Linked DNA regions of Homo sapiens: region 1 is linked to region 2. A link means that fine-mapping ties the variant in region 2 to the expression of a gene that starts in the linked region. Tissue or cell type: whole blood. Region 2 holds a variant in brackets; the other region holds the start of a gene. All regions are shown on one strand. Distances are from middle to middle.

Region 1 (5,392 bases), 29 kb before region 2:
TATTAGGGAACTAACTAATTATTCTGAAGATTAGGAAATAATGGTGAAAATCGCACATTTATCCTATCTTTCCATATAAGCTGTATAGATATTTAATTAGATGAAGTTCTTTATTATAAAATAATTTGTTAGTAAATGTAGAGTGAATATCAAATTAGAATATCACTATTTGCAACTCATAACAAAATGATGGATGCAGGCAATAATCATGAATGGCTGCTAAAACTATTAGCTGAAAAGTTGATGGAAAAATTTATAATATATTTATCATAAATTTAATATTTAAATAATATAATTATATTTATCATAATTATATATCAATGTCATATATTTATCATAAACATTTACCATATTTTTATAATATTTATATTATTATTTATCATACATGTTATCAGGTTGACAACATCTGAACCCAATGATCAAGTATAACATTAAAAAAAGAGAGACAACCAGAAGTTGTAAGCCTCTTGAAGTAATTCAATACAAAGTAAACTGTAACACCTATAAAGTCTTTTGTGAAAAAAAATCAAACTTTAATCTGAGTAATTCTATAAAGTTAACTACCAGTTTGCAAGAAATACAGGGGGAAAGGACAGCACAGGAATAAAATCTGCAAAATTCAGAATGTGGAAAATTCTACAGAACAAATGATCATTACTCTTTAGTAAATAAACTGCCAGAAAAAAAGGGGAAGAGGAAGGAATCCATAGATTTTTAAAAATCAAATGTGATGTGGAGACTTTGTTCAGATGAATCAACTGAAAAACATATAAAACTTCTGAGGCAAGTGAGTAAATTTGATATTGAATGTTTCTTTTATGTTATTACAGAATTATTGTTAAATTTGTAATACTAGGGATATTGAAGTTGTGTTGTTTTTCAAAGCCCTTATATTTTAGATATAATACATATTTCCAAAAAGTTTACTCTTAAATATTTGTCATCAAAACAATATGGGGTCTGGAATTTACTTCAAAACAATCCTAACAACTGGGAGAACTATATATTAATAGTTGTTGACTCTGGATCATTAATACACGAGGGTTCACTATACTAATCTAACATATGTTTGAATGCAAAGATTGGGTACTCCAAGTGAAGTAACTAATCCTTTCTGACCACCTGTCTGGTCACTGAAATCATTAAAGGCTGAAAACAACTAGTCACATAAAGAAGCATAGGGCGGCCGGGTGCAGTGGCTCGCGCCTGTAATCCCAGCACTTTGGGAGGCCAAGGCGGATGGATCACCTGAGGTCAGGAGTTCCAGACCAGCCTGGCCAACATGGCAAAAACCTGTCTCTACTAAAAATACAAAAATTAGCTGGGCCTGGTGGCGCACACCTGTAATCCCAGCTACTCGGGAGACTGAGGCAGGAGAATCACTTGAAACCCCGGGAGGCGGAGGTTGCAGTGAGCCAAGATCGCACTACTGCACTCCAGCCTGGGTGACAGAGTGAGAACCCATCTAAAAAAAAGAAAAAAAAAAAAAAAACAGCAGCACAGGGCGTTAGAAGCCCTCATGATCAATGTCAACTGGTGCATACAGCTTCACAGTGAGAAGGAGCTTCCAAGGGTAAAATCTGGGTGGGAAACAGTGATCAATTGTAAGAGACCCCTGTAGCTGTTGCTGATTACCAAGGAGAGAGTTTAGTAAAGGAAAAAGCCCTGGTCTGGAAGTTAGAAGACCGCCAACACCTAGTTTTGTAATCTCGGACTCATAACTTCTGTAGGTTTTGGAGCATAAAAGCACAGGAACTGAAATAAAAAATAACGACAATAATTTTGTTGTGGGTGCCCACTCTGCACTTCACAACATCCTAAGAGCTTTGGATACATTATCCTATTTACACCTCACAACCCAAGGAGGTGTTTTGCGCGCTTGATACATACTTTTTAAAGGACTACTGAATAAGTTAGGCGTCAGTATATGATACCAGTTTTCCCATGGGGTGAATGATTAAGGTGTTACAGAGGCCGAATATCTCGTTTAAGAGTGACTTGGTCTAGTCAATAGTCCAGGATTATTTAACAGGAAAGAATGCTTTGAGCACTCAATTGCATTGGACTGTATTGGAGAGAGGGCTAGGAGTTGGGTGGGAGACGCTGGAAAATTTAAAATCGTTTCCTTAGGCCTACAGTTTTCCGATCGCCTGCACCACGTTCTATCTACACATCACAGTCTCAGGAGAAGGATTTTCAGCCCTTCATTCAGCTCCAATCCTTTAGACCGCGATCTCTCCCGCGCCGGCTCCCAAACACTTCCACCCCCAATCTCCACCCCTTCTCCCTTGCGCACAACCTGTGGGCTTCAAACTACATCTCCCATAAAACCGCGGGGGCCCCCCTCCCGCCCCCCCCCCACCCCCGGATCTCCACCGGAAGTCGGGAAGACTGCATCCGGCTCCAGGAAAAGCGAGTGGGATATCCCAATCTTTGGACTGCATCCTGGTTGCCTCTACTGTGGTCACCTTTGGGTTAGTAGAAGCAGTGGGGAGTTAGTCGTCTCATTGCCTCCTCTGGGGGCGGTGACCACTTCCCTGGGCTCTTTGGTTCCCGCGCTGCCCTGCGTGGCCCTGCTGAGTTGTGTGGCGGAGCCTCGTAGTGGTTTGGTGGGCGCAGGCGCGGGAGCCACGGACGCATTTGCAGGGGCTCCCGCGACAGGGCGGAGGTGCGGCGGTACTGAGGTCGTAGAGTTTCCTGCCCAAGCTGAGATGGGGAAAAGGAAGCGCTACTTAGGGTGTGATTTCACCTCGAAAGAAGGAATCTCACAGTAGTGGCAAGAAAGTAAAATATCTTAAGGCATTTTACCATTTTCAGAGACCGTGCACGGGTGGCACTTAATTGGTCTTGAGTGCCCAGGGAGTGGATGAAATTCGTTAATTGATGGTCAGTGATTTCAGTGACAGAGCGATATTTAAGGTCCTGTCCTGTCCCATTCGGTCTGTGTGAGCATGCGGAAGTCATGGGCCCCGGGTTACATGTCAGTAAAAGTGGATGTTGGTTTGTTAAAAATTTATGTCCCTTTACATCTAATATTCTTTTAAATGATTTCTCGGAATAGTCCTTGAGCTTCTTGGAAAACAAGGGCAGCACTTTATTCTGCCTTCAAATCTTTACCTTCTATAACCTGTCAATGAGAATTGAAAAAGTAAATCAAACAGTAGAATTGGGTGTTAGACTTTATGTGCTTCTCTGGAATGAATAATGGTACTATTTCTAGATGGCTTTTCTGCTGAGAAAGCTAGAGGGAAAAGTGTACACTTTCCACTTCCCATCTCCACAGAATAGCATATGCATAAGCATTGCCCTGGAGGTAGTGAATGACGCTGTATTTTTGAAGGACAATTTTGCAGTTACCTGGCGCGGCCTGTGAGAATGTGAGGGAGTGACGGTGACCCCAGAACATGAGACAGTGAAATATTATTCAAACTAAACCTAGCTGAAAAAACTATAATATGGGTTTTTGGAAAATAAACTTAAGAGAAAGACAATTTGGAAGGGAGATCAGTACAGGAGCTGTACAGCAGTGCTTCAAAATAAAGTCCTGAAAATTTGTAGCTTTTGTTATGCATAGTATTTTTAACGTATGTAGAAATTTCAATATGAAAGGAACAGCGAAGTAAATTCTAGAATAAATCAAAAATTATTCTGTCATGTAGATATTACTTCTGGTAATTTAATTTCTAAACAGATTTCCACTGTTAGGTTTCATCCAAGTGTTTCCATGACTGTGAGCAGTTTTAACCTATTTATAAGTAGCAGAAAGACACAAATAGGAAAGGTGAACAGCTCCAAAATGAGACAATTAATCTTTACTCCTTGTTTTCCCTAAATTTTGTTCATACTATTCCTGCTATGCAATTCATCAGCCAGATCGCCCTTTCAGAACCCAGGAGACAGCAGCTATCAAAAACTATGGGCTATAACCTTTCTGTCTTTTTAGCTTAAAAATCTTATTGCTTAGAATGATAGAAATGTTGTTAGAATCCCAAATCTTTTCTTAATAGCATTTCATAGAAAGAAGAATTATACCTTAAAAAAAAATACTTTGAGAAGTTCACAGACAGTTGAATCATGAACCATTTTCACCATCCCCCGCCGCCAAAAAAAAAAAAAGACAAAAAAAGCTCAGTGTGTGCTCTATCATCTGCAGTCCATGATTAGGCAATATTTAAGAGGTATGGAACAATTATTTCAGGGTTTACCCCACCGAAACAAAAAGGTGACAAAGCAGATAAAGTTAATGAGTTTTAAAAGCTGCTCTGATTCAAGGACAACAAAGTGACCAACAGAACTGTCCAATAATAGAACCAAAAATATATGATCATCTGATTTGTGACAATATTTGTCTCAGTGTAGTAGGACAAAGATGGTAATTTCAAGAATAATACGGAGTAATATGGATTATGCATTGGGTAAAAAAGTATCTTGACCCCTACCTCATGCCATGAACAAAAATAGATCCTAGATGGATTACAGAATTAATTGTGCAAGGTCAAACAATAAACTGTTTTCCTGTGAAACTTATAAAGTCTCTGCCTTTACTTCCATCTGTTTTAATGCTCTCCCCCTCATGTCCCCACCCATCGTGAAGTCCCCTCTGGTCTACCCTAAATACCTCCTCCTTATGTAATATGTTACCTGGTTCCCCCTCCCAAGGATATGGCCCCCTCGTCTGTACTGTCAGAGCTCTTTATTCATTATTTTGTGTAACTCCCATGGGCATATAAATTGCGTTGCATTTTATAATTCTAAACTGATAACATTTTGAAATTGAAATGTATGCTGTTTAAGGATTGCCTGTTGAATAGTATGTTGCCTTGGAAACCATTGCTATTATTCTATTGCTATTTATCAATATTGTTCATTGATAAAAAAGCAGTTGCAAATAAGCTTTTTCCCCTGATTTTCCTTCTTTTAAGGAAGAAATGTCTTCTGTAAAAAGAAGTCTGAAGCAAGAAATAGTTACTCAGTTTCACTGTTCAGCTGCTGAAGGAGATATTGCCAAGTTAACAGGAATACTCAGTCATTCTCCATCTCTTCTCAATGAAACTTCTGAAAATGGCTGGACTGCTTTAATGTATGCGGCAAGGAATGGGCACCCAGAGATAGTCCAATTTCTGCTTGAGAAAGGGTAAACATTTTAGGCTGTACCACCTGAAAGGGTTTGTGGTTTAATTTCTTTGTTACATATTTACTTTAAAATTTTGCTTGTTTCCATATTTATATTGTTGAACTACTAAATAACTCATTGGCTAATTTATGTAAAAATGTAGCACAATTTTTCTAACTTAAAACTTTGTAACCTTTTTCATTGAGAAATTATTTCTTTATAGCAAAGCAAATTTATGAGGAGTCTAATTATAAATTTTCCTCCCAAATAGAAAATGCA
Region 2 (5,392 bases):
GCAAGAGGAACAGAGTGATCAGTTGTGTCAAATTCTGCTGAGAGTGTGCCTAAGATGACACAGAATTGACTTTTGGCTTTGACAATATGGATGTCACTGGTCGATGTGGGTAAGAGCACCCTCAGTGGAGTGGTAGGGATAAGTGATAGAGTAGTTCCTGGAGTGGGCTTGAGAAAAGCTGTGGGGAGAGACAGTAGACTCAGAAAATATAGACAAATCCATGAAGATGTGTTGCTGTAAAGGTGAACAGTGACATGTGATGGTAGATGGAGTGATGCAGTGAAAGACAGAAATGGATATTGCAGGAGAGGAGAGGATAATTGCATTAAAATGGTTCAGGTACATTTACTTTTTCCACAAAATAAAAGAGATTTCATAGACTATGATATAAATTCAACGAAATCAGTTTGTATTAATTAATAATTAATTAGTATTGGAAAGCAGAAAGAGTTTCATTCAGCTTCTGTTTCCTATGAGGAATGTGTCAAGCCCATCGTTGAGAGTGTGGAAAGAGGAGGACAGATAGGAGGTTGGAGAAGAGACAGTGTAAAATAGTTTTAGAGATAGAAAATATGTAAATATTATGAAATCATTGTAGAAAAGCTTTAAAATAATTTTGGTGTCTCCATGTGAAATTAAAATGACAAATTCTAAACCATGTGTGAGGAAGTTCAACAATATTCTACTTTTTCTAACAGTGACTATTTTAAAATGTTTTGAAAAATCAAATATCAAATTATTTAATAGTCCAAAACTTTCTTTGGTGTTGCTACATTGCTCATGTTCTAAGCATTTTATTATATCTTTATATAGGCCTTTCTAAAATAGGGAGAGAGGCTGGAGAGAGCATAAAATGGTCAACCATATTGAAGGAAGAGGGTCATACAGGACAAGAGAGGTACAGAAACAGAAGCCTGATATTTTAAAGAATACCTTCTCCCACTCCTCATTTTGCTTAGGATCAATTTAGAAAATGCAGCTACAGCCATGCCATGTTTAACAGGCAAAAAGGAAGAAATGTTTGCTGCCATTCAATTAAAATAGAATTGATAGTACCCCTATAGCCAGTGATTTCAGACACTGCCATCAGCTGATATGGATGCCTCTTATGCAAGTACAGAGCAACAGAGATAACAAGTAGGAAAAAATATGAGCAATTTATTTCTTTAAAAACAGAATTTTAACTATCGACAAATTAAATACAATGTAAAAGGAAAGTATATTTAAAAATACAAGAAGGCACTTTATTAAAACTATAGTTAGGTACAGATTGGTGCTATCTAATTTATTTATTCATGCATATTTATTAGGTACCTATTATGTGTCTGGCACTGTGCTAGATACTAGGTTCATATGAAACAGTACATTCAATTTTCTGGAACAAAGTTGTGCTTTCTCAATGCTAAAGTGAAAACTGACTATAAAATTTGCTCTGTATGGTCAGAAGCAATCCAAGCGTATTAGTCTGTTTCCACACTGCTATAAAGACACTACCTGAGACTGGGTAATTTATAAAGAAAAGAGGTTTAATTGATTCCCAGTTCCACATAGTTGAGGAGGCTTGAGGAAACACAATCATGGCACAAGGGGACGTCTCACATAGCAGCAGGTGAGAGAGAGTGTATGAAGGATGAACTTCCAAATACTTACAAAACTGTCAGATCTCATGAGAACTCACTATCATGAGAACAGCATGGGGAAAACTGCCCCCTATCGGGGGAACCTGCCCCCAATTTCACATAGGTTCTTTTCTATATTCCCTAAGTGTTGGCCGGTCTGAGAAACAAAGGGACAGAGTACAAAAGAGAGAAATTTTAAAGCTGGGTGTCTGGGAGAGACATCACATGTTGGCAGGTTCTGTGATGCCCCCTGAGCCATAAAACCAGCAAGTTTTTATTAGTGATTTTCAAAAGGGGAGGGAGTGTATTAATAGGGTGTGGGTCACAGAGATCACATGCTTCACAAGGTAATAAGATATCATGAGGCAAATGGAGGCAGGGCAAGATCACAGGACCACAGGACCGGGGCGAAATTAAAATTGTTAATGAAGTTTCAGGCACGCATTGTCATTGATAACATCTTATCAGGAGACAGGGTTTGAAGCAGACAACTGGTCTGACCAAAATTTATTAGGCGGGAATTTCCTCATCCTAATAAGCCTGGGAGTGCTATGGGAGACTGGGGCTTATTTCATCCCTACAGTTTCAACCATAGAAGACGGCCGCACCCAAGGGGGCCATTTTAGAGGTCTACCCTCAGGGATGCATTCTCTTTCTCAGGGATGTCCTTGCTGAGAAAAAGAATTCAGCGATATTTCTCCCATTTGCTTTTGAAAGAAGAGAAATATGGCTCTGTTCCACCCGGCTCACCGGCGGTCAGAGTTTAAGGTTATCTCTCTTGTTCCCTGAACATTGCTGTTATCCTGTTCTTTTTTCAAGGTGCCCAGATTTCATATTGTTCAAACACACATGCTTTACAAACAATTTGTGCAGTTAACGCAATCATCACAGGGTCCTGAGGCGACATACATCCTCCTCAGCTTACAAAAATGACAGGATTAAGAGATTAAAGTAAAGACAGGCATAAGAAATCACAAGGGTATTGATTGGGGAAGTGAAAAGTGTCCATGAAATCTTCACAATTTATGTTCAGAGATTGCAGTAAAGACAGGCATAAGAAATTATAAAAGTATTAATTTTGGGGAACTAATAAATGTCCATGAAATCTTCACAATTTATGTTCTTCTGCCATGGCTTCAGCCGGTCCCTCCATTTGGGGT[T/C]CCTGGCTTCCCACAACAGCGCCCCCCTCTGCCATGATCCAATCACCTACCACCAGGTCTCTCCTTCAACATCTGGGGATTACAATTCAAAATGAGATTTGGGTGGGGAATTTGACAAAGCCTAACCATATTGCCAAGGCATCTATACCACGTGTGTCTGCTCAAAGAGAGAGCTTACTTAATTAGTGGTTTGCCACCATTAGTGAGATTCAGGAAGCACGGATGGTCTGGGTCCCAGTTTTTCACATACCGAATTGAGAGCTTTGGATGAGATAATCTTGAAAACTTCTAGACATTCTAGCGCAAAAATAATGTATGGTTTGGTCAGCTTTATTGAAGCCCTCACCTGCAGCTCTGATAAGATGGCAAGTCTCCCAAAGCCAGCCACTGCTCAGCTCTAATTAAGGGTATATTTTAATTGTTATGTATATATACTGTAACGGAGGTTAATAGCAAGTACCATTTCACTGGAACCATTGATAATGTTTTCAGTTGTGTTTATTCAAGACAACTTTGTAAGTTAAATTTTGTTAGCATTTCTATCTTAGAGGTAAAGGAAATTCAGCCTCACAGATATGACACAACCTGCTGAGTGAGCAGCAGAGCCATGGTACAGACCCAGATATTCTGAGTCAAAGTCAAGTGCTCTCAACTAAACTCAGTGCAGCAGGCTACATTTTTCTGTTTAAACTATGTGAAACCATTGAGAAATAATCACTAACCTAGTCATGTGCTTTTAAAAAAAGTATTTATTTATTTGGCCCTGTAATTGTACAAATTTATAAGGTACAATTTAATATTTCAGTACATAGCTATGTTGTGTAATGATCCAATCAAGGTAGTTAGTGTGTCCATTACATCATGCATTTATCATTTCTTTGTGGTGAGAACATTCAAAAAGCCTCTCTTCTAGCTGTTTTGCAATATGCAATGTTTTCCTGTTAACCACAGTCACCCTAGTGTGCAACAGAACACCAGAATTCATTGGTTCAATCTAATTGAGACTTTGAACCCGTTGACCAACTGCTCCCCACCTTCCTAACCCCTTCTTCTCCCCAATCTCTGATAACCACTGTTCTACTCTCTGCTTCTATTATATCAACTTTTTTTTTTTAAAGATTCCACATATGAATGAGATCACATGGTATTTGTCCTTCTGTGTCTGGCTTATTTCATTTAACATGACGTCCTCCAGGTTTATCCATGTAGTCACAAATAGCAGGATTCCATTTGTTATGGCTGAATAATATTCCATTATGTATATATACCACATTTTCTTTCTCCATTTGTTGTTAGACACTTACGTTGATTCCATATCTTGACTTGTGATAGCTATACAATAAAACATGGGAGTGCAGATATCTCTTTGAAATACTTATTTCATTTCCTTTGGATACATACTCAGTAGTTGAATTACTGGATCCTATGGTAGTGTTTTTTTTAAATTTTTTGAGTAACCTCCATACGTTTTTCTATACTATCTATACCTAGTCAAATGCCTTTGAAGCGTTTTTAAATTAGAAAACCCAATATGTGTAAGACAGGGATAAAAAAAGAAAGATATTAAATTGTGCATTTGTAATCCTCTGCGCAACCCAATCCCCACATTGGCCTTCTAAGAAGAGTGGATTACTGCTCACCTCATCAGCCACAGGAATGTAGTTTTGCTTATTGCAGGAGAATGTAGACAGGTTAATTGAAAGATGCCAAGAGAGTATCAATTGCTCTATATAAGAAAGGCAGCCTAGGGAAGCAGAATTTTCAGAAAATTAAGAGATTTGGAGAGGCTATGGAATAAAAAGTATTTTAAATCAACAGATATTATGACTTGGAGGAGAGAGATGAGTTATGAAGAATTTTAATAAATTTTTGCCAAAACTAGCCGCAAAGCAACCTGATTTTACATAAAACAAATAAGAGTCAAGCTTTTTGACTGAGGTGTCCAAAGACACAGCCTGGCCAAATACACCTAAAGCAAACTGCCTCCATGGGAAACTATTTCCTTTTCATCTTTACAGACAGATTAATTCTTTTAAAGTAAAGCAATTAGAATCAGGCTTAGCTCTGAGCACAGGCAGGTGCCTGCTTGAGGTGATAATTGGGAAATTAGGAGATGGCCTTCCCGCAGATGCCTTCTCCAACATCTTCTATTAGTTAAGACATCATCAACAGAGAATATAACCCTTTCTTTCACAGTTAAGGTAAAGAATTTGGTCTTCTACAATGAATTACCAACTCTACCAATATGTTTACTCAGTCATAATATTTAAATATGGTTATATATAATGACAGTGTAATGAAGGCAAACCATCTCCCTACCCCACTTAATTTTTAGCAGGGCTACAAATTTCATAATATTGGATTTAGGCTAACTTTACAAAAAATTGTGTGTTTCTATTAATATAGGAAACAATGAAACATAAAAATAATTAAACAATATGCATCAACTTGCATCCTAAATGTCTACAAATACGAATATATGTGTATATGTTTTACATATCTATATGTTTGAATATTCATTTATATGCACATGTACATATATATCTAACAATGCACTAAATAGTTGAGATGGAACTAAACAAAAAAGGTTAATGTAATTACAACAATAAAATA

The links. PIP is the estimated chance that this variant, and not a neighbour inherited with it, causes the effect.
Region 1: NUDT12 starts here. The variant in region 2 is fine-mapped to the expression of NUDT12 in whole blood (TOPMed, PIP above 0.99).

Annotation. Positions count from the first base shown.
Region 1 is chr5:103,559,785-103,565,176 of GRCh38, reverse strand. It overlaps NUDT12 (nudix hydrolase 12), which reads left to right and starts at 2,388. Exons shown (of 7, transcript NM_031438.4): 1 at 2,388-2,474; 2 at 4,923-5,134. The coding sequence starts at 4,929. RefSeq lists enhancers at 2,085-2,615, 2,616-3,148.
Region 2 is chr5:103,530,551-103,535,942 of GRCh38, reverse strand. The region is part of intron 2 of LINC02115 (long intergenic non-protein coding RNA 2115); the gene reads left to right. Among named protein-coding and RNA genes, the nearest start is that of LINC02115, 8.7 kb to the left of the region's middle. The variant T/C (reference allele first, on the strand shown) is at 2,780.